Linked DNA regions of Homo sapiens. The protein of the gene in region 1 interacts with the protein of each later gene in a pairwise test. Each region holds a gene or a part of one and is shown in the gene's direction. Other genes may lie near its edges. The genes, in order: ZNF526, ZNF438, VCX2, BAHD1, RBM10, ATXN7L2 and PADI6.

The links.
Region 2: the proteins of ZNF526 (region 1) and ZNF438 interact in binary tests that used the Homo sapiens proteins (3 or more experiments, as listed by UniProt).
Region 3: the proteins of ZNF526 (region 1) and VCX2 interact in a two-hybrid assay, tested with the Homo sapiens proteins (one large-scale study listed by BioGRID).
Region 4: the proteins of ZNF526 (region 1) and BAHD1 interact in binary tests that used the Homo sapiens proteins (3 or more experiments, as listed by UniProt).
Region 5: the proteins of ZNF526 (region 1) and RBM10 interact in binary tests that used the Homo sapiens proteins (3 or more experiments, as listed by UniProt).
Region 6: the proteins of ZNF526 (region 1) and ATXN7L2 interact in a two-hybrid assay, tested with the Homo sapiens proteins (one large-scale study listed by BioGRID).
Region 7: the proteins of ZNF526 (region 1) and PADI6 interact in binary tests that used the Homo sapiens proteins (3 or more experiments, as listed by UniProt).

The regions. Positions count from the first base shown.
Region 1 is NC_000019.10:42,226,007-42,228,701, forward strand, and holds the end of ZNF526 (zinc finger protein 526), read left to right. Parts: coding exon 1-410; 3' UTR 411-2,195; downstream 2,196-2,695. UniProt on the Homo sapiens protein: May be involved in transcriptional regulation.
Region 2 is NC_000010.11:31,021,866-31,025,365, reverse strand, and holds part of ZNF438 (zinc finger protein 438), read left to right. Parts: intron 1-962; exon of another isoform or gene 963-1,946; intron 1,947-3,500. UniProt on the Homo sapiens protein: Isoform 1 acts as a transcriptional repressor.
Region 3 is NC_000023.11:8,169,444-8,172,592, reverse strand, and holds VCX2 (variable charge X-linked protein 2), read left to right. Parts: upstream 1-1,325; 5' UTR 1,326-1,486; intron 1,487-1,803; 5' UTR 1,804-1,949; coding exon 1,950-2,051; intron 2,052-2,243; coding exon 2,244-2,561; 3' UTR 2,562-2,649; downstream 2,650-3,149.
Region 4 is NC_000015.10:40,461,453-40,464,952, forward strand, and holds part of BAHD1 (bromo adjacent homology domain-containing 1 protein), read left to right. Parts: intron 1-459; coding exon 460-842; intron 843-2,408; coding exon 2,409-2,568; intron 2,569-3,018; coding exon 3,019-3,095; intron 3,096-3,500.
Region 5 is NC_000023.11:47,172,721-47,176,220, forward strand, and holds part of RBM10 (RNA-binding protein 10), read left to right. Parts: intron 1-407; coding exon 408-477; intron 478-2,298; coding exon 2,299-2,372; intron 2,373-3,500. UniProt on the Homo sapiens protein: Binds to ssRNA containing the consensus sequence 5'-AGGUAA-3'. May be involved in post-transcriptional processing, most probably in mRNA splicing. Binds to RNA homopolymers, with a preference for poly(G) and poly(U) and little for poly(A).
Region 6 is NC_000001.11:109,486,905-109,490,069, forward strand, and holds part of ATXN7L2 (ataxin-7-like protein 2), read left to right. Parts: intron 1-102; coding exon 103-313; intron 314-613; coding exon 614-900; intron 901-1,478; coding exon 1,479-1,561; intron 1,562-1,942; coding exon 1,943-2,196; intron 2,197-2,378; coding exon of another isoform or gene 2,379-2,436; exon of another isoform or gene 2,437-3,025; coding exon 3,026-3,165.
Region 7 is NC_000001.11:17,385,696-17,389,195, forward strand, and holds part of PADI6 (inactive protein-arginine deiminase type-6), read left to right. Parts: intron 1-2,685; coding exon 2,686-2,864; intron 2,865-3,081; coding exon 3,082-3,185; intron 3,186-3,500. UniProt on the Homo sapiens protein: Structural constituent of cytoplasmic lattices, which plays a key role in early embryonic development. Cytoplasmic lattices consist in fibrous structures found in the cytoplasm of oocytes and preimplantation embryos.

The DNA.
Region 1 (2,695 bases):
AGCGCTTCACACAGAGCTCCAACCTGCAGCAGCACCGGCGGTTGCACTTGCGGCCAGTCGCCTTTGCCCGCGCCCCCCGCCTCCCCATCACTGGTCTCTACAACAAGAGTCCCTACTACTGCGGGACTTGTGGCCGCTGGTTCCGCGCCATGGCGGGCTTGCGACTGCATCAGCGGGTCCATGCCCGAGCTCGGACTTTGACGCTACAGCCTCCCAGATCACCATCTCCTGCCCCACCCCCACCTCCAGAGCCTCAACAGACTATCATGTGCACAGAGCTGGGGGAGACCATCGCCATCATTGAGACATCCCAGCCACTGGCGCTTGAGGACACCCTGCAGCTGTGCCAGGCTGCACTGGGGGCCAGTGAAGCAGGCGGGCTCTTGCAGTTGGACACGGCCTTCGTGTGACGCAGCTGAAAAGCAACAACAAAAGGGTTTGGTTGCAACAGCCAGTGTGGGTACCTCTGGGGAGAGAGGACCTCCTCTGACAAACTGGTCTGGTACCCACCATGTGCCAGGATCCACCCTGGCCTCTTTTTACCCACTGACTCCCCAGAACAACCCTTCCAGGCTTCTCTTGTCATCTTTCTCTGCCTGAGGGGAAACTGAAGCTCTGAAATGCGATGTGATCTGTACCAGGTCACCCAGCTATGCTGCAAAGTGGGTTGGCCAAGGCCCTTTGCACTGCATCACCCTGGTGCCCAGCAACATCAGGTAACCTTCACTGAGCACCAAGCTTATGCCAGGTCTGTGCTGGCCACTCTCATATACCTCTTCAGATCCTCTGCTTGTACCCCCAGCCCTTGCCTTCCCTGGATTTTGGGCACCCAGGACTTTGCTCTGCCTGGTGGAGGGTACTTGATTTCTCTGGGCTTCCTTCATCTCAATTCTGACAGTGTGGAAGGAAATCTGTAGGTACCCAGGTCCTCAGCTCCAGACTGGGTGATGCTGGAGACCCAGGAGCAAGTCAGCACAGGCTCTGCCCACAGGAGGCATGCACAATCTGGTAGGAGAAACGCACAAGTACAGATAGCTTGCTCTCTGAGTGTGTCTCATTGATTCATTCAGCCTGTGTGTCCTAAAGCCTCCCTTCTCCCATACTGGGTGATGCTGGGGGCAGAGATGAGTCAGGCCTAAGGCTTCTCTGGGCTGTGATGGGGATGTGCAGGGACAGTGGGATCCCAGGAAACAGACCTCCATGGTGGGAGATCAGGAGTTAAGGACTTCCTAGAGAAGGTAGTCCCTGAAGGAAAAGTAGGAATCTGGCAGTGAAAGAGGAAAAGAACATTCCAGGCAGACAGCACTGCAAGAGGGTGAGCTCTTGGTGTATTTGGAGACCATCCAGTTATTCATCTGACTGCCTACCTGAGGCAAGCACCACACTTACCACTGTATGTGTACTATGATCCCAACAGGCTTGTGACATAGATTTCATATTATCCCTGTTGTATAGATTTTTAAAACTGGTGGCTGGGCGTGGTGGCTCACGCCTGTAATCCCAGCACTTTGGGAGGCCGAGGCGGGCAGATCACGAGGTCAGGAGATCGAGACCATCCTGGCTAACACGGTGAAACCCCGTCTCTACTAAAAATACAAAAAATTAGCCAGGAGTGGTGGCGGGCGCCTGTGGTGGCCAGCTACTCAGGAGGCTGAGGCAGGAGAATGGCGTGAACCCGGGAGGCGGAGCTTGCAGTGAGCCGAGATCGCGCCACTGCACTCCAGCCTGGGCGACAGAGTGAGACTCCCTCTCAAAAGAAAATAAAAATAAAAATAAACTGGCCAGGTGCGGTGGCTCACGCTTGCAATCCCAGTGCTTTGGGAGACTGAGGCAGGAGGATCACTTAAGGCCAGGAGTTCGAGACCAGCCTGGGCAACAGCAAGACCTCATCTCTACAAAACTTAAAAGTTAGCCAGGCCTGGTGGCACATGCCTGTAATCCGAGTGCTTTGGGAGGCTGAGGCAGGAGGATCACTCGAGCTCAAGAATTCAAGACCTGGGCAAGAGAGAGAGACTTTGTCTCTATTAAAAATAAAAATGATTGGCCGAGCATGGTGGTGCACACCAGTATTCCCAGCTACTCTGGAGGCTGAGGCGGAGGCAGGATTGCTTGATATGAGGGAGATTGAGGCTGCAGTGAGCTGTGTTCACACCACTGCACTCCAGTCTGGGCAACAGTGCAAGACCCTGTCACTTAAAAAAAAAAAAAAGGAAAAAAAAACTAAGGACAGAGATTTGCCCAAGGTTTCACAGCTAGGCAGAGATGTGAGATTTGAGTACGGGAGGCCCCTGCGGCCCACATTTGTAACCCATACTATTCTGAGTGATTAAGACCTGAAACTTGTGCAGGGGTAGGGGATCAGAGGAAGATTCATTCTAACTAGAGGAAAAGTAAACCAGTGTCAGAGCTATTGGGATTTGAAGGGGCTTCGAAACATCAAAGGTCTTGAGAGCAGGAAGATTCCCACCTTTTTCAGAGGTTACCTAGGATAATAGTCTTTCTCTCCATTGATTGATTGATTGATTGAGATGGAGTCTTGCTCTGTTGCCCAGGCTGGAGCACAGTGGTGCAGTCTCAGCTCACTGCAACCTCCACCTTCCAGGCTCAAGCGATTCTCCTGCCTCAGTCTCCCTAATAGCTGGGATTACAGGCCCCCACCACTGCACCCAGCTAATTTTTGTATTTTAGTAGAGAC
Region 2 (3,500 bases), on another chromosome or scaffold:
GGGGACATTACTCCTAGCATCTAGTGGATTGAGGCCATTATAGCATGTCACTGAATGTCCCACAATGTACAAGACAACTTCTCAACAACAGAAAATTATCCAGTTCAAAATGTCAGTACTCCTGATGTTGAGAAATTCTGTAATATCTTTTCTTCCTTCACTCCCTCCTTCCTTCTGTTCCTCCTTTTTTATTTTTTTATTTTTTTGCTTTAGAAATGGAGGTGGTAGTTTTAAGTGGCAAATGCCTGACTTGGACAAAGGATTGTGTTGTACTGCTTTTAGTTTGTTGGATAGCTGAGCTAATTTGGTTCATTTACTGAATGGGAAATAATTCTTGGAGCTAATAATAGTAGCCTTGAATTTTTTTGGTTGCTAGTGTGTCTAGTGGTTTTGTATTTGTTTTTGGCTATGAATATTTTTCTTACTAAAATTAATTTAATCTGGACTTTATATAATCCTGGATTGTAACAGGTTTCCTAGTGTGAATTCCCTTTATTGTTGTATATGTTAAATTAGCTATTTCACAGTTTCATGGTTTATATCTGTCAAAATCCTTTTCACATTAATTTTCATTTTTGATTGTTACAAACAGCCCATAAAATGTGTAGGGCATGCATTATCCTCACTATTAGACCAATGAAGAAACAGACTTAGGTTAAATGACTTTCCATATGTGTTAATAAGTTAGTGATGAAAGCAAATCTAGAACTTTATACCTAGGAATCTTTTTTTTTTTTTGAGACAGAGTCTCGCTCTGTCGCTCAGGCTGGAGCGCAGTGGCGCGATCTTGGCTCACTGCAAGCTCCGCCTCCCGGGTTCACGCCATTCTCTTGCCTCAGCCTCCCTAGTAGCTAGGACTGCAGGCACCCGCCACCAAGCCCGGCTAATTTTTTGTATTTTTTTAGTAGAGGCGGGTTTTCACCGTGTTAGCCAGGATGGTCTCGATCTCCTGACCTCGTGATCCGCCCGCCTTCACCTCCCGAAGTGCTAGGATTACAGGCGTAAGCCACTGCGCTCGGCCGTACCTAGGAATCTTTTAAAGTTACCAGTTATTGTTATCCCATTTAATCTTCTTGACAATACTGTGAAATAGAGTTATTACTCTCATTTTATAGAAAAAGAAGTTGGTTTAGAGATATTAAATAACCTATTCAGTGCCACCCAACTCATAATGTAGTTTGGCTGTTTCCACTGAGCTATTCTGTGTCTTCAGATATTCTCCAATAAATAAATCTGACAATTTCTGGATAAATTCACAGAATCTTTGCCTAACTTAATTAGGTTTCTTGAAACTCATGTTGCCACTTGAATCATTGGTAATTCAGTGTTTGTAAGCCTATTCTAATTTGACTTAAGTAGAAACTTACCTGAGTTTTGGTAAACCATACTTGCTGGGTAGGGGAGAACCGTGCTTGCAGAAGACAGTCCTTTAAACAGGCAGAGACGTTTTTATGTAGGGTTTTGAGGAAGCACAGAGTTTGAGATTGGCTGATTTTGAAAAGTGCAAAAATTTAAGGATTAGCCAGCTTTAAACTTAGAGTTTAGAGACTGACCGGCTTTGAGGAGCAAAGGTACTGAAGCGGGGCAGTTGCTGATTGGCTTACTTTGTTGGCAAAGTGCTTAAGTGGAAAGGTTGAGTAGACTTTAAGGATGGATTGACTGGGGTAGATTTAAAACTGGTTTTGTGGTTACTTGTTTCCAGCTTAGGACTAGAGCCAAAGAACAATCTTTTCCTTTCTTGAAGTTGAAGAATACGTACTTTTTATGTCAAACATGTTGATGTTAGCTATGGCGCTAATATAACATACTTTTGATTTTGCTTTTCTTCTGAAACTTAAAAGAAAAATGGATGTACAAATATCACTTGTTTTCTGTCTATCAATTTCAGGACAATATATTTGGAACCCAGGCTGCCTCAAGGATTATTTTTATATGTAGTTCAAGAGGTAATATATTATTTGTGGAAATATATTAATGCTTTAAAAATTATGGTGAAGGCTGTGCTGTCTATGGTGAAGGTTATGTCTATTTTTTTTCTCTTTTGGGAGTGTGTTATATTATGTGCCTGCCACAATTAGTCTTGATAGATGCCGAATTATAGATCTAGAAGTCTGTTGTTTTTGCTGTTATTAGAGATACATCTAGAAGTGATTACTTTTTGAATGTTACTTGGAAAGTATTCTGATCAACATTATGAAAGATTAGTGATTATATTACATATATTTTATAGAACAAGGCAAGCAAAATATTTTAGTATTTGCAAATCATGTTACTATAATTATTAGATCATAGTACCATTTATATAAAGTATTAGGTTGGTGCAAAAGTAATTGCGGTTTTGGACCGTGAATTTTAAATCATTATAAGTCGGCTCAGACACGTCTTTATTAATCAGAGCAGGAAGCATTATAATCAACACATTTTTGCCAATGAGAAATAAGTTTGTTCATTCCTGTAGCTTAAAAATTCATGCTTTGGGATTTGGAAAGCATTTTCTGCTTTCCAAAAACCTGCTGGTTTTGGAAGCATTTTCCTTTCAAATAGTTGTCGAGATGCTTGAAGAAGTGGTGGTTGACAAGAGGTCAGGTGAATATGGCGGATGAGGCAAACTTCATAGCTCAATGCATTCAGCTTTCGAAGCGTTTGTTGTGTGTCGTGCGGTTGGGCATTGTCATGAAGAAGAATTGGGCCCTTTCTGTTGACCAACGCTGGCTGCAGGTGTTGCAGTTTTCAGTGCATCTCATTGATTTGCTGAGTGTACTTCTCAGATGTAATGGTTTCACCAGGATTCAGAAAGCTGTAGTGGGCCAGGTGTGGTGGCTCACGCCTGTAATCCCAGCACTTTGGGAGGCCGAGGTGGGTGGATCACCTGAGGTCAGGAGTTCGAGACCAGCCTGGCCAACATTGCGAAACCCTGTCTCTACTAAAAATACAAAATTGGCCAGGCATGGTGGTGTGCACCTGTAGTTCCAGCTACTTGAGAGGCTGAGGCAGGAGAATTGCTTGAACCTCGGAGGCAGAGGTTGCAGTGAGTTGAGATTGTACCACTGCATTCCAGCCTGGGTGACAGAGTGAGACTCCGTCTCAAAAAAAAGAAAAAAAAAAGGAAGAAAGCTGTAGTGGATCAGAGCGGCAGCAGGCCACCAAACAGTGACTATGACCTTTTTTTGGTGCAAGTTTGGTTTTGGGAAGTGCTTTGGAGCTTCTGGGTCCAGCCACTGAGCTGGTCGTTGCCAGTTGTCGTATAAAATCCACTTTTTGTCACACGTCACAATCCGATTGAGAAATGGTTCATTATTGTTGTGTAGTATAAGATGGCACTTCAAAATGACAATTTTAAAAAATTTTCCTTCAGGTCCTGAGGCACCCATTTATTGAGCTTTTTCAACTTTCCAATTTGCTTCAAATGCCAAACGACCGTAGAATGGTCAATGTTGAGTTCTTTGGCAGCTTCTCACTTAGCTGTAAGACGATCAACTTCAATGATTGCTCTCAATTGG
Region 3 (3,149 bases), on another chromosome or scaffold:
TGCAAAATTCCAACCTCATGTTAGAAATATTACCTAATATAGTAGATATCTACTTTATCCAAGTGAGTAATTAACTAGAGATAACTACATGAAGCCAGTACCTGGAATAAACAAATTCTTCTCAGTACTAGTTGAACAAACAACTAGCAATTACTAGGAAAACTGGTTGAACATAGAAAGTTTAGTAACCATTCGAGTCAATTCTGTATTCTTACTTTTTTAGGATTGTTGACTAGGTACTATGGATTTGGTAACTAGAGTTACCTGAGTAAGAGTTAAATACAGAATCCTCCATAAAACTGGAATAACTGGTTGAAGACAGAAGTATCACATTGCATTCTCCTCAGTATTTCTCATTTCTTGTTGGAATAATAAGTTGGTTCTGTCAATGGGTAGTGAGTACCTAGGTTATTACAAAGCAAGAAATAAGAAGAGATGACTAGAATAAATATTTGATACCAGAATGGTGAAAAAAACATTCTTTTCAAATAGAAACTCTAATTTCCTGTGTAATTAATGAGTTACAATTAGTTAGTACTGGAGATATCTATATGAGATGTGGACTTCATTTTTGGGGGGTGGTACATACTTAACAGATGAACTGCTGGGTCACATGGTAGATCTATTTTGATTTTCCAAGGAACCATTACACTGTTTTTTATAACGGCTGTACCAATTACACGTCTGTCAACAGCGTGTAACAGTGAGGTGATAGTTCATTGTGGTTTTCATTTGCATTCTCTGATTATTAACGATGTTGAGCACATTTTCATATACCTGTTGGCCAGTTGTGTGTTTTCCTTCTAGAAATGCCTATTCAAGTCCTTTGCCTATTTGTTAACCAGACTATTTATTTATTTGCTATTGAGCTGTGTGAGTTCTTTATATATTTTGGATATTAACTCATTATTAGATACATGGTTCGCAAATAGCTTCTCCCAAACCATAGCCTGCCTTTTCATTTTGTTGACTGTTGGCTGTGCAGAAGCTTTTAGTTTCCAGCCTGCTCACTTGCCCTATATATTTCAGCTTCCTAGACCCCCACATTGAGTCAATGTGTGAGCCAATTACTTAGAATAAACTGTATCATATATATAATTCATAAATACTACATGATAGTAAATATATATTTATGATATATAATATTACACACACACACACACACACACAATATCCTGTTGGTTTAGTTTCTCCTTCTCTGAGGAACCCAGCCTGATACCGAAACCCAGCCTGATACCGATACCCAGCTGAGCGAGTGTGTTTGCTGATCTTGACCTCTGGAAGCCAGTGCTTTAAACCATGAGAATGAAAAATTGTGAGGCACTATGTGGATGCTGGGAGAAGTATGTGAGATGGAAAAGTTGTTTCATGGCATCCAAGAAGTGAATGATCCTCAAGGTGTAGCAGAGGAATTTGTAGGAGAGAGGGATGATTGACGTCTTCGTATAGCCCTCCATCCATCCCAGTTAGCATGGAGGGATTTTAGATAGGTCATACAGAAACTGGGTAATGATGGCAGGTGTGGAGGAACAGAATGTACCACTGAATGGGAGGTCCGGGGGAAACATGTGGCGGAAATATCCTCCCGTGCCACGTGATCTGCCAAAATTGAACATGGGGAGTTTAGGAGGGGTGACATGTCAGTTTGGGAACTATCTTTAGGGGTGCTAACCCAAATCTCCCTTTCTCCAATTAGAGCACCCTGCCTTCCTCATTAGATGTCACCCCCCCCCCCCGCCCCCGACTTCATCCGCCATGTCCTGATGGTGCTTTGTGACGTATAAGGCCTTCCTTCCCGCCCAGGGCTACCATTGGCTGGGTAGTGGAGTGTTGACCAATCACAGCTCAGGGGCGTGATTGTCTCGTCCTGGGATCGCGAGAGGGGTATATACAGGGAGGCCAGGCAGCCTGGAGTTAGTCGACCGTTGCGAGACGTTGAGCTGCGGAAGATGAGTCCAAAGCCGAGAGCCTCGGGACCTCCGGCCAAGGCCACGGAGGCAGGAAAGAGGAAGTCCTCCTCTCAGCCGAGCCCCAGTGACCCGAAGAAGAAGGTGAGTGACCCTCCCAAGCTCCTCCTCGTCTTCCCCTCGCCTCCTTCCTCACAAGAAGCCTCTCCTGTCGTCACTTGGCAGAACCCCCCAACCCGGCCCCCACCGCTTCTGAGGACACGTCCCTGTTCCCAGCCTCCTCCATCCTCGTCCCTAAACCAGAGCCCTTCTGTGATCTCCCTGTTGTCCTTCCAGACTACCAAGGTGGCCAAGAAGGGAAAAGCAGTTCGTAGAGGGAGACGCGGGAAGAAAGGGGCTGCGACAAAGATGGCGGCCGTGACGGCACCTGAGGCGGAGAGCGCGCCAGCGGCACCCGGCCCCAGCGACCAGCCCAGCCAGGAGCTCCCTCAGCACGAGCTGCCGCCGGAGGAGCCAGTGAGCGAGGGGACCCAGCACGACCCCCTGAGTCAGGAGAGCGAGGTGGAAGAACCACTGAGTCAGGAGAGCGAGGTGGAAGAACCACTGACTGTGTGGATGGCCAGCTTTTCCCCTGTCTCCGAGAGCACCGACTAAGTTCAGGCCCAGCCGCCAGACCTCAGAGATCTCACCAGCGGGGTGCTTGCCATTCTGAAGATAATAAAATGAATGTGTTGCAAATTGATCTGAGTGACTCCGTGTTCTCTGATGGTGGGGAGGGAGGGAGGGAGGGGGGAAGAGGTGGTGTGTGGTGAGGGAGGGAGGGAGGAAGAGGTGGTGTGTGGGGAGGGAGGGAGGGAGGGAGGAAGAGGTGGTGTGTGGGGAGGGAGGGAGGGAGGAAGAGGTGGTGTGTGGGGAGGGAGGGAGGGAGGAAGAGGTGGTGTGTGGGGAGGGAGGGAGGGAGGGAGGAAGAGGTGGTGTGTGGGGAGGGAGGGAGGGAGGAAGAGGTGGTGTGTGGGGAGGGAGGGAGGAAGAGGTGGTGTGTGGGGAGGGAGGGAGGGAGGAAGAGGTGGTGTGTGGGGAGGGAGGGAGGAAGAGGTGGTGTGTGGGGAGGGAGGGAGGGAGGAAGAGGTGGTGTGTGGGGAGGGAGGGAGGGAGGAAGAGGTGGTGTGTGGGGAGGGAGGGAGGGAGGAAGAGGTGGTGTGTGGGGAGGGAGGGAGGAAGAGGTGGTGTGTGGGGAGGGAG
Region 4 (3,500 bases), on another chromosome or scaffold:
CATGGTGAAACCCTATCTCTACTAAACATACAAAAAAATTAGCTGGGTGTGGTGATGGGCACCTGTAATCCCAGCTACTCAGGAGGCTGAGGCAGGAGAAATGCTTGAACCCGAGAGGCGGAGGTTGCAGTGAGCCAAGATAGCACCACTGCACTCTAGCCTGGGCAACAGAGCGAGACTCTGTCTCAAAAAAAAAAAAAGTTCGGAGTTAAAAAGGATGTTCCAACCACCTCTCTTTCAGACTAAAAGGGGAGATGGCCAATCTCCAAGATCAGGAAACACCCCTGTCCCCTTAGAGAGTCACTCTGACAGTCCACCATAAAAAGGCCTCTGATCCCATCGGCCACCTCAGTGGCCTTTGGTTGCACAGTTAGAATTAAGACAGGAGCAGGCTCTGAAAGCAGATGGGTGATGGGGGTCACTGCTTGTCCTGTCCTGACCACTCTCTCCCTTTCCTAGAAGGCTGCAGATCCCTGGGCCAGTTGGAATTTCCTCTCCCGGAAGCTGGCCACCCAGCCTCACCCGCCCACCCACTCCTGGGGTGCCCTGTACCCAGTGTGCCACCTGCAGCAGAGCCCGTCCCCCATCTTCAGACACCCACCTCGGAGCCCCAGACAGTAGCCCGTGCGTGCCCTCAGAGCGCCAAACCTCCCAGCGGTTCTAAGTCAGGTCTGCGCACAGGCTCCAGCTGCAGGCACACTGCAAGGAGCAAGGCTGCCCGCAGGCCTAGCCACCCCAAGCAGCCACGTGTCCAGCGCCCACGCCCTCGCCGCCGCCGTCGCCGCCGCACTAATGGCTGGGTACCTGTTGGGGCTGCGTGTGAGAAGGCTGTGTATGTCTTGGTAAGTGCTAGCTCTTAGCTGATGACGAGAGGGAGGGAGGCAGTGGGGACACATGACCTGCAGTGAGGTAGGTGCTAGAAGCACCTGGTTCTAGCTACTCTGAGAGCTGACAAGGGACTCCAGTTTACTTGTACCCCAGGAACCAGTCATGCTGGCCCACCCAGCTTGCTTCCCTAGCCCCCTACTGATCCTGTACCAGACACCCCAGGGAGGTCAGGAGACACACAGTCATAGCTGGTGGCTGCCATCTCGGTGAGTGTCTTCCCCTCCCCTCCCTGCTCACTTTGTCCCTTACACCCTGGATTGTAAAGTGGAGGACTTTCAATGGAGAACTTTTCTGGATAAGTCTATATAGGGGGCGTTGGAATGGGCAGAGAAAATTAGTGACACAGAGAACATCTCGGATGATGAAAAGAGGCCAAGTGCGGTGGCTCACATCTGTAATCCCAGTACTTTAGGTGGTGGAAGTGGTAAGATCGCATGAGGCCAGGAGTTCAAGACGAGCCTGAGCAATATAGACCTCATCTCTACAAAGTAAAAACATTAGTTAGCCAGGCATGGTGGTGTGCACCAGGAGGCTGAAGTGGGAGGATTGCTTAGGTCCAGGAGTTCAAGGCTGCAGTGAGCTGATTGCACCACTGCACTCCAGTCTGGGTGACAGAGAGACCCTGGCTTTTAAAATTAATTAATTAAAAACAAAAAGAATATTAACTAAAATTTATTGAGGCTGGGCAAGGTGGCTCATGCATATAATCCCAGAGCTTTCAGAGGCTGATGCTAGAGGATTGTTTGAGCTCAGGAGTTCAAGACCAACCTGGTCGACATAGCAAGATCCTGTCTACAGAAAAAAAATTTTTTTAATTAGCCAGGCATGGTAGCATGCATCTGTAGTCCCAGCTACTTGAGAGTCTGAGGCAGGAGGATCACTTGAGTCCAGGAGGTTGAGGCTGCAGTGAACTATGGTTGCACCACTGCATTCCAGCCTGGGTGACAGAGTGAGACCCTGTCTCTAAAAATAAATAAATACATAAATACATAAAATTTATTGAGCACTTCTTAGATGCCAGAACTGAGCTAAGCATTTTGTAAGTATTATGCCCTTTAATCCTCACCACTACCCTATGTGGTATATATCCCATCTTCCTATAATTAATCCCATTTTACAGATGTGGAAGCTGAGGCTTAGCAATACTTTAAATAATTTGTCAAAGGCTGTGCCCCTTATAACAGTGGTTTAAGGGTTCAGACCGAGACTTGTTCCATTAGGAAGCATGAGCACTTACCCAGCACTGGGGGTCTTGGAGTGAGAGTCAGCTGTCGGGTATGGTGGTCAGAGCTCAGCCCCAGAAGCTTCAGGCCACTTTTCCACCCCTATTCCCTTTTCTCATCCTTTCTCCAACCATGAGAATTCCCCAGCCCCATCCAAAAAAGGATAGTGGTTTGACAAAACCAAGGTAGTGGTTTGACTATCTTGAGGAAATCGTGGAAAGGATGTCATTCCCTCTCTCTGTCCTTACTCTGAGTGTGGCTCTGCAAGCCTATTTGTGTCATTGGTTTGTTGCCTAGGATGAGCCGGAGCCAGCCATCCGAAAGAGCTACCAGGCGGTAGAGCGGCATGGGGAGACAATCCGAGTCCGGGACACCGTCCTTCTCAAATCAGGCCCACGAAAGACCTCCACACCTTATGTGGCCAAGATCTCTGCCCTCTGGGAGAACCCCGAGTCAGGTACCTCTCCCTCTGGCTGGGGACCCAAGGGGCAGCTGCCTTCAGCAGAACTGTAGTCCCCAGATTGGCCCCTGCCTGGAGTTTGACCTGGCGTGAGTCTCCCCGTGTTCCTGGCACAGAGTCTGCCTTCCACTCGGCTGGGGTCTCTCTGCTGCCGAGGGCTGTGGGTGACCTTGTGGCTTGGGTTGGATCAGCTCATTAACCTTTCCAGCCAGCAGAGCCTGGGCACCTGTCCCCCCACCTCACCTGTCAGTGCCTTCTCCCCCTTCTCCCTCCATGCCTAACAGCATTCCAGGCCTCTGAATGCTTGGCCTGGGGCAGGGGACATGGGTTGCCGGAGCCTGCAGGATTGAGGTTGGATGAACCTCCAGGGCAGCCAGCCAGCCTCTCTGCCTGTCTAAGTAACTCAGGTTGCCAGTTCAAGCCATAACCACTGTGTTGTCCTTCCAGGAGAGCTGATGATGAGCCTCCTGTGGTATTACAGACCTGAGCACTTACAGGGAGGCCGCAGTCCCAGCATGCACGAGGTGAGCTGCCTGGCAGATGGGTCAGGGAGGGCAGGAGAGACAGAGGGAAAGGTTATGGCACTAAGACGTGGTAGGGGGAGGGCAGCCATGGGCTGTAGTCAAATCCCTGCGCTTGTCACTTTGGACTCCAGAGAACCTGGGAAAGGGCCCAGGATTTATTCTCTTTTCCCAACACTGCCCCAATTCATGTTTCAAAGGGAATAATAACCTTTGTCTTAAAAAGAGGAACAGAAAGGGAACCCTTGAGGTAGCAGGTGCCAATGGGAGCAAGTGGATGTGTTCCCCTGGAAACAGGAAAGGTGAGGTGGAGCTGCATACCTGGTCACTTTTGGTATTTTCTGTAGTAGGGGAGGGGAGGGGAGGAAAGACTCCTCCTAACACCCCATAGGCTCTCCACCAAGCTGT
Region 5 (3,500 bases), on another chromosome or scaffold:
GCGGGTTATCCCCTTGCCAAGGGCAAGAATTGCATCCCAGGTTTCCTTACTTCGTGGCTGCCAGCGAGCCCTTTGTCAGATCACCCTGCCCACCGTTCTTAAGTGGCTGGCTCACTTGCTCTCTTGTTCTCTGTGCCCCTGAGGGTCGTCCTGCTGCCATGCTTTACCTTGCTCTGTGCCCATTTCTTCATTTGATTCACTTTCTGCAAGTCTGGGGCTGAAAGTCAAGACTGTGAACTGGTGTGGGCCTGGGGCTGTTGTCACTCAGGGAAAAGCTGCGAAAGAGGCGGAGGAGACTGTGTGCACATCACCGATGACCCCTCGGGATCCAGAGGCCTCCAGCCAGCCTCAGGTACCCAGCGGCCCCATTGTGCTGAGCCTGCCCTACTCTGTATCTCCCCGTATAGATCCGTGGCCAGCTGCAGTCGCACGGCGTGCAAGCACGGGAGGTTCGGCTGATGCGGAACAAATCTTCAGGTGAGCTTTTGTTCTAGTGCCCTCCCCTTCAAGTGGCCAGCCTCAGCCTCCGAATCTCCCTCCTGCCTCTGCCTTCTCCCCCACTCCCTCCACCACCTTCCTGCCACAGCTGGGAATGGGCAGCGTGGGGGGTGCCCTCTCTTCTCTCCCACTCCCCACACTCTCCTCACAGCTCCAGCCAAAAGCCTCTTCAATGGGGCTGTCGGGGCAGGGGTGCAGCTCTGAGCTGAGCTGGGTGCTCCCTGGGGTCAGGGCCAGGGCCAGGCTCCCAGGCACCTCCTCTCTGGGACTCTGAGTATCTGAGATGGTAACCCCCTCCCATACACTCCCTTCCCTCTCCTTTCTTCTCCTTCCTCTGCCCCTCACTTTCCCCCACATTTTTTGGTAACAGCCTCTGACCAGAAAGTAGCTCTGACGTGGTGGTCCCACATGTGTGTCCCAAGGGGGAAGCAGGGGATGGCTCTTATCCAAGGACACATCCCAAGGAACAGCCAGGACTTCCTGGCCTCGCCTGTTCCCTCCCTCCCTCCCTCTTGCAGGCTGCTTGGAGCTGGCCTGAGGTTAGCAGGGTGGTGGTGGGGGGAGTTGTCTCTACAGGACCTCTGCCCAGGCTCCCCAAGGCAGGCACAGTGGGGCCTCACTCTGCCTGGGCTTCTCTCTCCATCTCTCAGTCTCTCCTCCCCACACCTCCATCTCTCTCTCTCTCTCTCTCTCTCTCTCTCTCTCTCTCTCTCTCTTTCTCCCTCTCTCTCTTTCTCTCTCTCTGCCCCCCCCAACTATATTATTCATTCCATCCTCCTATGCATCCTAACGGTTATTCTTTTGAACATTAAGCATGCCCCCCCAAGCCCCTCTCATCCAAGCCCTCCCCATGTATCTGCCTCTAAAGGACATGCTATCCTGAGGCCTCAACCCTGAATCCCTTTCCCAAGCCTGGAATCTTGGTTGCATGTAGGTCTTGCTCTGCATCACCCCAACTACACCACACACGGACAGCTTCTGGGTCTCTCTCTCCACAAGGAGGTGTTCCAGGTGCGGCCTTCTCAATGGCCCTGGGCGCTTCTCCCAGGCACCCATTGATTCTTACCTCTAAGGTCCTCCTGGCCAATCCTGGCCACCATTCTCCTTTTGTCCAGGGGAACCTGGACTGTTTGTGGCTGTAGTCTCCACCCTGTGGCCCTGAGGTGGCTCCCTAGCGAGGCCCGCCTCCCCTGCGCTGCGGTGAGGCTGAGATGAGGTCGTGTCTTTAACCGCCCCTGGTTTCCAATGGGCCAAGAGCCTTCCTAGCCTCGCAGAGCAGCCTGGCCCAGCTTCTCTTTTGCTCCTGTGATTCAACACCTGTTACAGGACCCCTCCTGGGCACCCCTGGCCTTGAGCTGGGCCCGCCCTGGAGTTACGTATTGTGGCTTGTGTGGAGCCAGCAGCCTGCCCACCATCCCCTCCCTCCTTCTTTGGAGGCAGATCTCTCGTATTCTTTCCCTCCCAGCTGCTTCTCTCCGTCTCTGTCACCCCAGGCTGGCTGGGCAGGTCTGCCCGAGCCCCATCTCTCTCTTCCCAGTTGGTGTGTGTGTCTCTCCCCCTACCGACCTCTGGCCTCTGTTTTTCTCCCTCCACCTTCCCTGCCCCACCTGGCCATCTACCTTGCCCCCCACGCCCGCTAGTCTTTCTCTCTCTGATTGCCTCTTTCTCTTTCTTCCTTTTTCCTCTTCCCCTTTCCCTCTCTGCCCCCCGTCCTCTCCCCTCGGGTCCCGCCCCCGGGAACGCCGTGTGTCCAAAGCTGTTGACTAACCCACTGCGTCTGTATCTGAATGCTGTCTCCAGGTCAGAGCCGGGGCTTCGCCTTCGTCGAGTTTAGTCACTTGCAGGACGCTACACGATGGATGGAAGCCAATCAGGTTGCTTTGCCGCACTTGAACCCCCCCCCAAACAAATACTACTTTGTAATCGAGCGCTCCCCATCGCCTGATTCTTATGGACACAGTTCCCTGCCCTGTGGCCCTGTGTCCCATCCCCCCGCCCCCTCTCTCCCCTTCCTGACCCTCACTATCTCCTCTTCCCATCTCTCGCTACCCCACTGGGCTTCTCATCCAGAGCCCACACTCACCACTGGCCCCTTCCTACCACCAGGCACTAGTGCTGCCCCTTCACCTCTCCCAGCTGAGCGTTCAGAGAAAGAGCTGCCAGGGTGGGTTCTTTCACCTAGCTTCCCACTCCCCCGGGGCTGGTGGGGGGGGCACCCCTCTCTGGGGTTAGCCAGAGCCAGGACCTCATTCCACCCTCAGGACCACTGGAAGTCCTGCCAGTGAGGAGCTTAGCTATTGGCACAGTCACTAGCAAGACTCATTTTGTCAGCCCCATCCCTGCATGTGAATTTGGCCCTTTGATTTTCATGCAAGGGGACAGCACTGCTCTGTTGATCTCAAGTTCCCGTCGAGTATGATAGTTTTATCGACACCCTGGCCTCACTTCGCCGCCCCTACCCTTCCTATCACATCTCCACACTCGCAGGAGGCACCACCTCAGGCAGCTCTGTCTTCTCGGCAAGGACCTGTGCACAGTCAGCCCTGGGGGGAGCCTGTCCCCCAAGCCTGGCACGGGATCCCAACTCAGCAGCTTTGGGACCTCCGAGACCCAAAGATCTGCCTGGTCACCCACCCCTGCCCAGATCCCTGGTGTAGGGCACTGGAGAGCAGTTTCAGGGGAGGAAGGGGCAGAGGTGGTAGAATGGGGGATCCCGGCAGAGGCAGCCCTGGGGCCGTCTCCTCGGGGTTGGTAGGCTAGTGCCATGGGCCCAGGACCCAGCCATCCATGGGAAGACGGCCTCATGGCAGAAACTTCCATCTGTTCGAAATGGCTCTTTCTTTTTCCCCTTCTCCAGCACTAGCGCACCTGCGCTCTCTTTCTCTTTTTCTCCCCTCTCCCTCCCCCTCCCTGTCTCCCCTCACCCCCCAAGTGTAGCCTGTGTAGTCCTGGCCCTGGGTGTGGCCTGGCAGTGTCAGGGCCGAGTGGGGGTTTCTCCCCAC
Region 6 (3,165 bases), on another chromosome or scaffold:
GAAACTCAGATTCTCTCATGTGAGTCTATGGACATGGTTAGGTTGGGGAAGGAAGTGGTGATACCACTCACCTTGATTATTCTTTCCACCTCCTGGTGACAGAAAGAAGACATGGGCCCCTCAGCAAGCTTTATGGCCGGGCCCCACCCCCACCTCCAGCCCCTGCCAGCTCTCAGAAATGCCATGTAGTGAATGGGCAGGGCCCAGCTTGTAGGGCCCCAGGTTCCACGAAAACCTCCTCCAGGGAGAAGGGCCAGGGGTCCCGGAGCCGTGGCCACCAGCCTCCTGAGAAGACCCAGAAGGACAACCTCTGGTAAGGAGAGGCTGGAAACTTTCTAAGACTGGCCCTGACCCTGACCCATGGATGGGCTGACATCAATACAGACAGCCCTGGGTCAAGGCATACTCCTCACAGCAGGAGGCAGCCGTCCTGTCTGCAGCTTCCTTCCATATATTCCAGGGAAGATGGGGTCTCCTCTTCCCGTGTTTCACACCCCTGCTGGAGCCCACCCAAATTCCAGGGCTGGGAAAGAGATGGCTCTGGGCTAGAGTCCAGGCCCCAGGCCTCGCCTCCCCTCCCCTCCCTCAGCCAACCCCCTCTCTCTGTGTGTAGCCTTTTCGTGCCTGTGGTGAATCTGGAGAAGATGTCCAGTCTCCCGAAGCCTGATGGACATGGAATCAGGGTGGCCCCACCCTCTGCTTTTCTCAGCCAGCCAGGGGGCCTCACCAAGGACTCCCCTGGAAAACCTCCCATGGCTCCCCCTTCTAAAGAACCTCCTGGCAGAGAGAACATCGAGATCATCCCCAGTGAGGGGTCCAGTCACTGGGCTGAAGGCAGCCCTCCTGAAAAGGAGCCCAGTGGGACCAGGCTGCCCCCTAAAACCCACCGGAAGATGGCTCGTGAGTAGTTGTGGTCTTGGGGGTCCAGAATGTAGAGTGGGGACTCCTTTGGGCTGCTTTGTCCTTGGGCTGGATGAGGAGGAGGTCAGGTTTATGGGCCTGGCCATCACAGGTTGTAGGGTATAGGAGCCCCGTCACCTCTTGACCTGCTTGCTTCCTGGGAAGCTTCTCTCCATCCTGTGTCTCCTGATCAAGGCTGAGGGAGCCCATGCCCAGGAGGTGAAGTTCTTTCTCACTCTTTTCTCACCTAGATCCAGGGCGCCAGCCAGACACATCTCACAGCTGGCTTCTCTGGCCTCCCAGATGCCCATGGCTGCTTTTGTTTCTTGATGTGTGTTGCCCTGCTTTGGGCTTGAAGTCCCAAAAGGCGCACCTGAAATTGGGATAGGGATGGTTCTCACACCCAGCAAGGAGATGTTGATGCCCAGAAGTTTATCTGGAAGGTACAGCCCCAGGCTGAGGGCTGGAGTCTCTTCTGCCTTAGTACCAGTTCTCAGGCCCTTGGCAGGAAGCGGCCAAATCCTCCTGTAAACTCCTGGAAATGGTCTTGAGGTTCATTGGAAGTGCTTTCCCCACAGGGAAGGAGTGCGACCTCAACAGGCAGTGTGGGGTAATAAATCCAGAGACCAAAAAGATCTGTACCCGCCTGTTGACCTGCAAGGTAACCCCCTTCCCACTGCACGGTGAGGGAGGACAGCACAGGGCTTGCCCACTCCTTCCCTGGGCAAAGAGAGGAATGTCGATGTTACTGAAGGTCCAGCTTAAGGGAGGGCAGTTAGGCCCACCCAAGGGAAGGGGAGATGGGTATGCCCCTCCTGGGCAGAAGGTGGGAACAGTGGGAAGGAGGGAGTTTCCAGATTCCCCCATCCCAAAGGAGGGTTTTGGCCCCATGGGGGAATGAAACAAAGACACATGAACACAGCTGCAAATATGCCCACCTCTCTCCCTGCCCCCCAACTTGCCCGGGCCAAAGCACCCTGCCGTCCCTCACCCCTTCTCAGTTCATACCTACTCCCCAGCTCTCCACTCTGCTGTATTCTAGATCCACTCAGTACACCAGCGCCGGGAAGTCCAGGGCCGGGCCAAGGACTTTGACGTGCTGGTGGCAGAGCTGAAGGCCAACTCCCGCAAAGGGGAGTCTCCCAAGGAGAAGAGCCCAGGGCGCAAGGAGCAAGTTCTCGAGCGCCCCTCCCAGGAGCTCCCCTCCTCAGTCCAGGTTGTAGCAGCGGTGGCTGCTCCCAGCAGCACCTTCTCTGTTCGTGCCAAGCAGACCTACCCATACTGTGCACTGCCCAGGTACGTCTAGAATCCAACCCCTACCTCACCTGGGGGTACTTGGCCCCTAAGCCATCAGGGGCCCCTGGAAACAGGCTCAGGGAGTGTCCTGGAAGAGGCACTCCCTCAGCCCTGAGTGTGGGGGTATTCCTGGGGCTCCTGACAGTGGTGTGGAAGCAGGAGACTCCCCTGTTTCCAACCAGGCATACCACAGCACCCCAGCCTCTCGGCAGTGTGCCAGATCCAACACTCAGGATATGAACATTTTCCCAGCTGCCTCCAACAGACCGAAACTTGTCACTGGGGAGCTGAAAGGGTCACACTCCTGGGCAAGGCAGCCCTATGTGTATTCACTCACTGGCCCCTTCGCGTGCAGAGGCTATGCCGGACCCCAGGGAGAGCCTGACTTGCTGAAGGAGACACACATGCATCTCTGCCTGTCACACAAGGGGCAGACACGAAACACAGGCTCAGCTCACAGACAGGCTCACAGGAATATGTGATGCAAGAAGGGGGTTGAGCGAGTTGACTGGGCTGACCAGAGCTGGGTACAGTTTTAACTGTGAAGATTTTCTGGAGGAGGCGGATCTGCAGCAGATTATCCCCTGAGGAGGAAGGGGCTGGGAGGTGAAGGGGCTGGGGAGAGAATCCCTTGGGAGCAGTCTCTCTGTCTCTTACTCTGTGAGCTGTGTCGTTCCCTCCTGTCCTTCCCTTCCCTCTGTCCTCTTCTGATTGCCCTGCAGGGTGTCTGCCCTGGTGCCCTGCTCTTTGAGCTCGGCAGGTTCAAGGATGCCCCTACTCTGACCCCACAACAGTCACATTCCCCTGGCATCCCTTTTGGCCCTTCCAGGTCCCGGGCCTCCTCCGAGAGTGAATTGGATGATGAAGGCCCCTGTGGTGGTGATGGGGACCCAGGCCTGTTCCCCTTCCCCATGCCCCGGGGTGGGACCCAGGCCTCCAGCGAAGAGAGTGAGGAGGAGGGGACATCTG
Region 7 (3,500 bases), on another chromosome or scaffold:
TATGCTAGAACAATCCACGAAGGATGGAGAGGATGACATCGTCGTCCCCAAAAGAAAGGGGTAGCTGGCATTATCTGATGGCCAGCACTTCACAGGAACTGGGATTCTTGAGGAATAGAGAAATGGCCGAGAAGTGCCAGTGAAGAACCAAGAAGGGTACCCACCTTCCTGTAAGTCCAGCAGTACATGGCAGGTAGGAAAAAGCTCAGCTCAAATCATCAGTATTTGCTCTGTGCCCTGAGGATCCAGCTCTGGAAGAATAAACCATGTTACCTGCTCTCAGAGCCTGCTACGACAGATGGACAGACAGTCGAGGACCCAGCAGAGGCTGGAGGGAGCCCTTTAATATGCCCCCAGGGTGGGTAGGGAGAGTTTGAGGTAGCTAAGGCCTCCTGGGCAGCTCTGTGAGGACTGAGGGCAGGGAGGGCCTTCCAGGTAGAGGCAGCTATTGTGTGTACTTGGGTCGCAGGGCTTCTGGCCTCCCCCATGCTTCTGTTTAATGGGGACAACAAATGCCTGCTTCAAAGGGTCCTGAGGATGTGAGCCCATGAGCCTGAAACACCTACCACAGCTCCTAGCAAAGATAGCCCACAGTGAAATGTTAGCTATGCTTCACAACAAACTATCTGTGAGAGGGGCCCCCAGAAGGTCAACCACAGGAGAGCCAGCCAGTAGGGGATTGTGGCAAACAGACTGTGACCCTCTCGCCCTCACTGCCTGGTGGTGAATCACCCTTGGGTGGAATGGCCACAGGGAGCCCAGGTCCCCAGAACAGGAGCAGGCCCTAGGTGTGTGGCACCTCTTGGGCTGCATGCCGTGGGCCTGCTGATGCTATCGCAGGTCAAGAGGGCTGTGTCTGCACTGGGAAGTTGCAGGGGTTCCTGGGGGAAGACTGCCTTGTCTGGTCTTGCCCCATGAGGCCTGGCTCAGGGCTGGTGAAGCATCTAGGTAGATGAGAAGCAGGAACTAGCACAGGAGTGGTCCCGGTGGGCCCAGTTCCCTCACAGCCAGCAGCAGGACTGAGGCTGGGCCTGTAACCAGCATCCCCAGGGCCTCCAAGGAGGGGCTGCTGCAGAACTGCAGAGTCCATCGGGAGGGCTGCTGGGGCTCTAACCCAGAGCAAGAGGCCGAGGACCCAGGGCAGTGCCTAACCAGGGGCAGCCACGGCCGCAGCTGCAGCCATCTGCTGGCACGTTGGAGGAGCTGGAGATGGAGGCAGCTGGCAGTGCCGTGCAGAAGGTCTGAGGATGCTACAGTTCCTGGATCTCTTGGGGTTCTAGTGGCCAAGGTAAATCTAGCTTAGGATCCCCTGAAATAAGTCACCTGGAATCTTGAGCAGGAACAGCCATCAGGCCTACAGCTGCCACATCGGGCACAGATAGAGGACAGGCCAGGAAAGAGGAAGTTCGAGTGACCCAGGTGGGAGAAGTCAGGGTCATTTCTGACCTAGAAAATGAATGGACTTGGGCTGGGCACAGTGGCTCACGACTGTAATCCTAGCACTTTGGGAGGCTGAGGCAGATGGATTGCCTGAGCTCAGGAGTTGGAGACTGGCCTGGGCAATGTGGTAAAACCCCATCTCTACTAAAAATACAAAAAACTAGCCGGGCATGGTGGTGCACACCTATAGTCCTAGCTACTCAGGAAGCTGAGGTACAAGAATTGCTTGAACCCAGGAGATGGAGGTTGAAGTGAGCCGAGATAGTGCCGCTACACTCTAGCCTGCTCAACAGAGCAGGACTCCACCTCAAAAAAGAAAAGGAGGGGGGGGGGCCAGGCGTGGTAGCTCACACCTGTAATCCCAGCACTTTGGGAGGTCCGAGGTAGGCAGATCACGAGGTCAGGAGATCAAGACCATCCTGTCTAACGAGACGGTGAAATCCCGTCTCTACTAAAAATACAAAAAATTAGCCAGGCGTGTGGTGGTAGGTGCCTGCAGTTCCAGCTACTCAGGAAGCTGAGGCAGAATGGCCAGAATCCAGGAGGCAAAGCTTACAGTGAGCTGAGATCACGCCACTACACTCCAGCCTGGGCGACAGAGCAAGACTCCCTCTCAAAAACACCTTTAGGATCTAATTAGCAAACGGACAACCACCACGTGTGGTCAACTTCCTTCTGATCTCTTCTGTGCATGGTTTTGTATTTAATGACCTAAAACTAGGAGACAGGCTTAACATGTATAATCATAAGAACACTTGGTTTCTTCAGAAAACTTGATGGAGGCATAATCCATCCAATAAATGGTTCTCACTGACCTTTCTAGCATCAGTAAGTGATTTTTTTCAGATGAGGCTGCTGAGCCCAGCCTGGGACAGTTTCTCACCTTTAGGACTCTGATATTATCGCAGGAGTTGGATTCATGGGCCAAAATGTAGAACCACCTACCCTGAGGCTTCACACCAGTCAGGAGCCTTGAAGGCATCATCACCTGAGCTCCAACTCCTGGCATGTAATAGGTCTTCAAGGAATACTGGTGAATAACTGGCCATTGCTTGTGTATGAACATCTGGTTGTCTACCAAGACCTGAATGCTAGAAACGGGGATGGCTGAGCCATTTCAGCTCCAGCCCTCCTGGAACTCACAGCCTTGCATCTGATATGAGGAATGAGCTGGTACCTTGACCATCAAATGTGACCGGCACCAGGTTACTTCAGTGGCTGGTCCATCCCTTCTTTCTCTCCTAGAAGACAACTCCAGTACCTTTGAGTTGGTGCTGGGGCCCGACCAGCACGCCTATACCTTGGCCCTCCTCGGGAACCACTTGAAGGAGACTTTCTACGTTGAAGCTATAGCATTCCCATCTGCCGAATTCTCAGGCCTCATCTCCTACTCTGTGTCCCTGGTGGAGGAGTCTCAAGACCCGGTATGTCCCCATAATAGATGGGTCCTCAGACTAGGATGCTCCGGTGGGGGAAAAGCCATCTCCCACAGTTGGGCAGAGCTTGAGGTTTGCTGGGGGAGAGCTGCAGAAGGCAAGTGGGGCCCAGCTGGGGGCCGGACTGAACGGCCGGAACCCTGGGGTAAGAGGGGAGCGAGTAAATGTGGAAGCAGGTTGCTAACAGGACCTTGTCTTGTTGCAGTCAATTCCAGAGACTGTGCTGTACAAAGACACGGTGGTGTTCCGGGTGGCTCCCTGTGTCTTCATTCCCTGTACCCAGGTGCCTCTGGAGGTTTACCTGTGCAGGTGAGAGACCATCAGGCTGACTGTGCCAGGCGGTTCTCATAACTGGCACCCTCTTCTTTCTATATGCAGGGCAGGGTGGGTGAAGATGACTAGGACCTCTCACCAGGAGAGTTGAAACCCTTCTGTCTGAGCTGTCTGGACCTGCCCCAAGACAGTCCAATACATGCCTGAATATTCCCAAAGATGGGCATGGAACAGTGAATGAGACAGTCCCCCCATTATGTGAGGGCCAAACGGCATGGTTTTAAACAGTACCAAGTGCTCTAAAGCAGGGTGAAGATGGAGAGGTCAGGATGAGAACCTGTCCCAGGGACG